2 linked regions of the Homo sapiens genome follow. The protein of the gene in region 2 interacts with the protein of the main gene of each other region in a biochemical or structural test. Each region holds a gene or a part of one and is shown on either strand. Other genes may lie near its edges.

Region 1 (3,500 bases), on a different chromosome or scaffold from region 2:
TTGCTCTATACTTTTCTACTGTAGTCCTGGAGCCCCCAAATGTATCTTCTTCCAACGTGGGATGTTCAATTCAGAGACACTGAAACTCAAATCAAGTTTAAAGCTCAAGTTCATTTCCCCCACACCATTACCATCACAACCCGTTTCTTCTCTGGCTCAATCATCTCCTTCACGCTCTCCTTGGTGTAACTGCTCAGTAGTCAAGTGAACCATCTCATTTCTTGACTGCCATTCTCAAGAGAAGATTAACCCTCGCGAGATTTCCATTACAAAAGGCCTTTTCCGCCTTGTCTGGAAGCGTCGGCTTGTTCCGGTGTTGGCAGAGGCTGGTGTTTCTGCCTCCTGGCCCCAGCCTGTCCCAGGTTTAGATTCGCAACTCTCTAGACCGACCTGCTGAGATGTGTCCACTGCTCTCATTCAATTGCTGGAGGACTCCACTAACCACAACATCAGATACAGGACCTAATGAAATGACACGTGCTGCTGGATCAACGTCTCCTAAAGGAACAAACAGGGTCACATCAGAGAGCTTACTGCCACAGGACAAAGTCCAGCAAGATGGCGTCTGCAACGCTACCCACCACCACCAAGTCACTCCCCCAAGTTACAGGTGGCCCTGGCATCTGCGGGTTCCACATCCATGGACCAAAAATATTCGGGGGAAAAAAACCCAAACAATAAAAAATAACATAAATATTAAAAACAATACAGTATATCAACTATCTCCATAGCATCTACACTTTATTAGGTATTACAAGTAATGTAGAGATGATGTAAAGTACACGGGAGGATGTGCATATGTTATACATAAATGCTACACCATTTTTTACCAGGGACTTGAATGTCTGTGCATTTTGGTGTCTGAGGGGATCCAGGAAGCAACCCCCTGTGGATACCGAGGACAACTGTAGTGCTTTTTTGAGAGCATTCATGCTCTCTACTGAGCTACAACTTAACCAGAGCCATTGGAGCAATGGCTGGAGGAGTGGCTCTGTTCTCTTCTACAACTTATTCTTAAGGTGCTAAGAATTCACAGTTTGTGTTATGGTTCAGTTGTGTATCCCCAAAATTCACATGTTAACACTGAACTGCAGGACCTCAGAATGTGACCGTATTTGGAAACAAGGTTGCTGTAGACGTAATTACTTCAGATAAGGCCATACTGGAGCAGGGTGGAGCCCTAATCCCATATGACTGCATCTCTATAAAAAGGGAAATTTGCACACAGACACACACAGGGGGAAAAGGCCACGTGAAGACAAAGGCGGAGACCAGGGTGAGGTATGACAAGGTATGGAAGCCAAAGACTGCCGGCACCCCCAGCAGTAGAAGGCAGGCCTGGAGCAGTCTTCCTCCAGGCCTCAGAAGGAACCAGCCCCGCTGACTCCCTGACCTCAGGTTTCCTGCCGGCGGCCTCCAGTGCTGCGAGACAACAGACATCTGTCGTTTAAGCTACTAGGGCTGTAATATTTTGTCATGGCAGCCCAAGCAGATGAACAGTTTGTTTCTTACAGAGCAAGCTACCTTAGCAAGAAACTTTCAAAGCGTTAAGATGCAAATATGGAAAAGTATATCCTCAGCTGGATAAGATCCGTAACTCTTCCAGAAATGAACTGATGGAAAGAACACAAGTATTCCCTGAGGGAATGAAAGAGAAGATTCAAGCATCTCTCCTGAAGTCAAGAAAAGGCAGCTATCTAACCTAGAATACTTTAAATAAATGCAGTAAATGACAGGAAAAAAATGTTCAAAATCTTTGCTAAGTAAGGTATAGTTATATCACTAGTTATAGTGTAAGGTGTCATTTGACTGGTTTATAAGCAAACAATCATTCTGAGTGACTCAAAAATCTATCAGCTCAAAAACTGTTTATTAATACAATATACACTTTGGATTAAATGCAATTCTACAATGGACTCTATTGTATAACAAAACTATCACTAATTTAACCTTACATAAAGATATATAAAAAAAAAATCTGATGAAAAAATGCAGACTCTACTTAAGATAGGTTTACAAGAGTTCAATATCAGCCTGGGCAACATAGTGAGACCTCGACTCCACTAAAAATAAAAAAAATTAGCCATTTGTAGTGGTGTGTGCCTATAGTCCCAGATACTGAGAGGCTGAGGCAGGACTGCTTGAGCCCAGGAGGTCGAGGCTGCGGTGACCTGTGATCACGCCACTGTACTCCAGCCTGGGTGACAGAGCAAGAACCTGTCTCAAAAACAAAATAAAACAACAACAAAATCATTTTTAAAAAGATGGGTTTAAAAGTCAGATAGTATACTCCTATGCCGCTAAGTGTAGGCCACACACCAGCAGTTTTGACATCACTGGAGATCTTGTTTAAAAGTAACCAGAGCTTGTTGTGCTCACTTCAGCAGCACATATACTAAAAATTGTAGTGATACAGAGAAGACTAGCATGGCCCTGTGCAAGGATGACATGCAGGTGGGGTGCAGTGGCTCACGCCTGTACCCTCAGCACTTTGGGAGGCTAACGCAGGCAGATCACTTGAGGTCAGGAGTTTTGGAGACCAGCCTGGCCAACATGGTGAGACCTCATCTCTACTAAAAATACAAAAATTTGGCTGGGCGCGGTGGCTCATGCCTGTAATCCCAGCACTTTGGGAGGCCGAGGAGGGTGGATCATGAGGTCAGGAGTTCAAGACCAGCCTGGCCAAGATGGTGAAACCCCGTCTCTACTAGAAATACAAAAATTAGCCAGGTGTGGTGGCAGGTGCCTGTAATCCCAGCTACTCGGGAGGCTGAGGCAGAGAATTGCTTGAACCCGGGAGGCGGAGGTTGCAGTGAGCAGAGATCACGCCACTGCACTCCGATATAGCGAGACCCCATCTCAAAAAAAAAAAAAAAAAAATTAGCTGGGCGTGGTGGCACATGCCTGTAATCACAGCTACTTGGGAGGCTGAGGCACAAGAATTGCTTGAACTCGGGAGGCAGAGGTTGCAGTGAGCCGAGATCCCGGCACTGCACTCCAGCCTGGGCAACAGAACAAGACTCCATCTCAAAAAACAACAAAAAAGAATGACACACAAATTCGTGAAGCTTTCCACAATAATTAAAAAATAATAATAAAAGAAACTAATCAGAACTTGCTTTTTAGTAAGAGTCTAGAGAGTTAATACGTATTTTAAAGTTTGAGAAGCATTGAAATAACCCATATGAATTAGTACCATCTAAGCCATGTAAGTATTAACACTTGCCAAAAATGTTAAGTTTCACAGATTTTCAATACTAGTGTATTAGAAAAACAACCTTGTTCTGCAATACAGAAAACCCTACATAATAGTTTTACTTACAGCACTGCTGCCGTTTCAACTCATTGTAAGCAAATGCCTCTTATTTGTTAAAGGGCTGAAATTTTAATTTATGTCCTTATTTCAAGGATCTCCTGGTTAGAAAATATACAAATACAAATTAAAATCTGGGAGTCCATCAAAAGCTACAGGAGAAAAATAGTTTATGCCGGGCGTGGTG
Region 2 (3,500 bases):
GATTTCATGAGGCACCAGTGTCACATAACAACTTGGGGGCTGGTGCACACGTACTTACCGGTGCATCTGCCACAGGCGAGGTCTGCGTGAACAGTTGGGTATTCAGACTGTCCCCTTCCCAGTGGTGTGAGCAGAAGAAGTTTCCTGATTTATCAGTTGGAGATTCCACCTAAAAGCATATAGAAAGTGCTTTGTTGTTTCTAGAACTTCCTATGAAACATGTACAGTCAGGAGTATATTTCTGGCCAGTCCCTCAAATACTTTTATAAAACTATGTTGCTAACTTACACTATCAGCTCAATTTGCTCTATCTTCTGGATTCAACAAAGAAACACTGATGGCAAATTTGAAATGTGACTAGCTCCAAATTTACTGCCCCTGTAAAGCTCCTACGTTTTCAACCAATGTTCTGATTCTAGGTGTTTATTCTATTAAGAATATATTTTAATGATACACCTAGTAGTGTTGTATCCGTCAAGGATTTTATTTTGGTGACATAAAAGATCTTTTGGTGACAAAAGACTGGTTTTTAATCACATTCTGGTAAAATTCTCCATTACTAAATAATCAAATCAGATTTTTAGCTATAAAAAAAAATACTTATCTTTACATGAAAATAAATTCAAGAAGCACTGTATCTAACCTGGTGGAAAACAGCTGTTGCCAACAAGCTAAAACTTTGATCCTTGCAGGTTAGATTCTCTTTTTTAATTTTAATTTTTATTTTTTTTGAGACGGAGTCTTGCTGTCTCCCAGGCTGGAGTGCAGTGGTACGATCTTGGCTCACTGCAAGATCTGCCTCCCGGGTTCACACCATAATCCTGCTTCAGACTCCTGAGTAGCTGGGACTACAGGCGCCCGCCACCAAACCCAGCTAATTTTTTTGTATTTTTAGTGGATACGGGGTTTCACCATGTTAGCCAGGATGATCTCGAACTCCTGACCTTGTGATCTGCCCACCTCAGCCTCCCAAAGTGCTGGGATTACAGGTATGAGCCACCGCGCCCAGCCTCCCTTTTTTTAATACAATTAATTAAAGATACTATTATTTTAATTTAAATTCCAATTCTTCACATCTAAAAATGAAATATCAACTTTATATAATCAGTAATGTTTAAAAGTACATTAAAAACCTCTTTCCCTCCCTTTTCTTGATACTCTCTAGTATGTTTTCTGTCCAAACATGAAGTAGATAGAGATGGCTTGGCTTCCCAAAGGAAAGGTTGATGATGCCTACAGTCTGGCAGTACCTTTTCGCTGCACCTTGTATGAAAATCTTGCACGAAAAGTCGTGGTGTTGCACAGTGCCAATGGCAGACACATCAAGCTGCACACAAGGAATAAAGGGGGCAGGATTCTCAGCTTGTTGCTTCCAAAGGGTTGCGTGTTTACCTCTTGTTTGATTTTCTTCAGTAAGGGTGGTCCATTTTCTTGAAACTCAGCAACAATTCCAGATTCATCAGATTCCTGTTTGATCACATCCTGCAGATCTTCTACTAGATGAGAGGGTGTCTGAGGCTAAACGGAAGAGTGGGTATTTTTGCATCAGAGAGAACTCCTAATGGGACTAATAAACCAATGAAATCCAAAAACTTTTCTAGAACTTACTAGCATCTTCAGGGGACCGTATTTAATTTCTTGAGCTGCAAGTGCATGTTTGAATGGTGTAGGAGTTCTTGGAGAGCTTTCTAAGATTGACCTTTTGATAGCTGGGGTTCTAAAACTTTAAAAAGAAAACAAGCAGTGGCTCAATACAAAAGAATAAATGTCCCTACATGGCTTTACCTGTTACATTTAACATTTTTCCACTGAATACAATAAACTCTGTTCCGGATATGGAATTGGGGTGTGCTGATTAATCACGTTATTCGTTAAGAAAAAGAGAATATGCATATCACATATTTTCAAATATTTCAAAATATTATACCTCGAAGACTAAAAGCATTAAATGATTTAACATCTTTCCTTAATGGCTCTGAAGACACATGTAGTGCCTATGATCTGTATAAGACTATGAGCATCAAGAAGACCTGATGTCATTTACAAATCAGGTTTCCCTATTCATGAAAACAGAGCCCATACTACAAAACATGTTAAACTTTTAAAATTTACTTTTTGTACTTCGAAATAACAGTGCATTTCTTTTCAAGGTTTCTGATAATTCACACTTTCTCTACCATTTCTCTGAATTGATTAAGGCTTTATTGAATAAAAATGACTGCTTACTCATCCCTTGGCTTCTAATCATATAATATTCCTGGGGATGTCAGAAGAGGTCCTATCTACACATAAATTCAAAAAGAAAAAATAAGATTAAAAAATACAAACTAAAAATAAATAAATAATAAACAAATAAAATTAAATAAAAATACAAACTAGGTAAGAAACCATACTCGTTCTTATTCTGAAGCTTACAATTAGAGAGGAAAGGAGGTTGAAAATCTGGCTTTCATAAGAAGGCCTTATGGAGGGAACAAACAAACCGAATGGAAAAGTTTTATGAAAACTACTTGTGCATATATAGGAAATTTTGGAGTAAGTTACAAAAGGAATCTAGTTTATCTTCCCATCTTCTACCTGTAGGTAGTTGTAATATGCCCAGGACAGATATATTCAATGTGGGAATAGACATGATTATATATAAATGGTCAGTAAAATTATGCACATACAAGTGGATCAGACATCTGGGAACTATATTCCATTAATTAAATATAAGTAAATAAGATAAATCATTTTATTCCTGAACCAAAGACTTACACAGTATTTTCCTTTTGAGTTTTCACAGTCTGGTCTCTATGAAATGGTGTTGTAACAGTCAATTTGTGACCAATGAGGGGGGTGGAAGTTAAAGAAGGCATTTCCAAGTCTGAGTTTTCATGGTTACTGGAAGTGTTTAAGAACTAAATATGGAGAGAAAGAAAAAATACTTAGATTAGATGGTAATTCTTTATTCTCCCCAATTTAAAAATCACACCTAGATAACAAGAATGTTTTCCTGACCCACTATATTAAATAATAAAGATGCTAACAAGCATGTTATATTGACTAGGGTATTGTTTTATTTCAATTGAGCACCCAGGATTTGGGTGTGGTTTCCAAGAAATAAAATTTAGGGTCATTGCTGAAAAACTTGCAAAACTGTGAGAAAATACTCTCAATAAATGACACTTGTCATTAAAGAGAATGAGATGTGTTCTTTATTAACATTTAAAAGGCTTTAGTGATTTTGGGGAAAATAATAGTTAATAATTAATAGTTTCCTTTCATACTTTGTTTTTTCTCTTTAATAATCTATGAACCAAAATTAGTATTACAGAAGGTTTACATTATATGGAAAATTCTTGAATAATAAACTGTGTCTCTCAGAACACTAAAGTTCTGGGAAAAAACTAGGTGTTCCTTAAACAATTCCAAGGTAAAATAAATTTGGGAAACACAACATATCATAATCTCCTCCTGGAAATTCACAAGGCACAACGGCATATTAATAACTCTGAGAA

Evidence for each region.
Region 1: the proteins of MYB (region 2) and UPF2 form a complex in vitro, tested with the Homo sapiens proteins (one large-scale study listed by BioGRID).

The regions. Positions count from the first base shown.
Region 1 is NC_000010.11:11,920,810-11,924,309, forward strand, and holds part of UPF2 (regulator of nonsense transcripts 2), read right to left. Parts: intron 499-3,500; coding exon 489-498; 3' UTR 1-488. UniProt on the Homo sapiens protein: Involved in nonsense-mediated decay (NMD) of mRNAs containing premature stop codons by associating with the nuclear exon junction complex (EJC).
Region 2 is NC_000006.12:135,198,308-135,201,807, reverse strand, and holds part of MYB (transcriptional activator Myb), read right to left. Parts: intron 2,901-3,500; coding exon 2,758-2,900; intron 2,283-2,757; exon of another isoform or gene 2,227-2,282; intron 1,724-2,226; coding exon 1,609-1,723; intron 1,519-1,608; coding exon 1,393-1,518; exon of another isoform or gene 1,251-1,392; intron 170-1,250; coding exon 59-169; intron 1-58. UniProt on the Homo sapiens protein: Transcriptional activator; DNA-binding protein that specifically recognize the sequence 5'-YAAC[GT]G-3'. Plays an important role in the control of proliferation and differentiation of hematopoietic progenitor cells.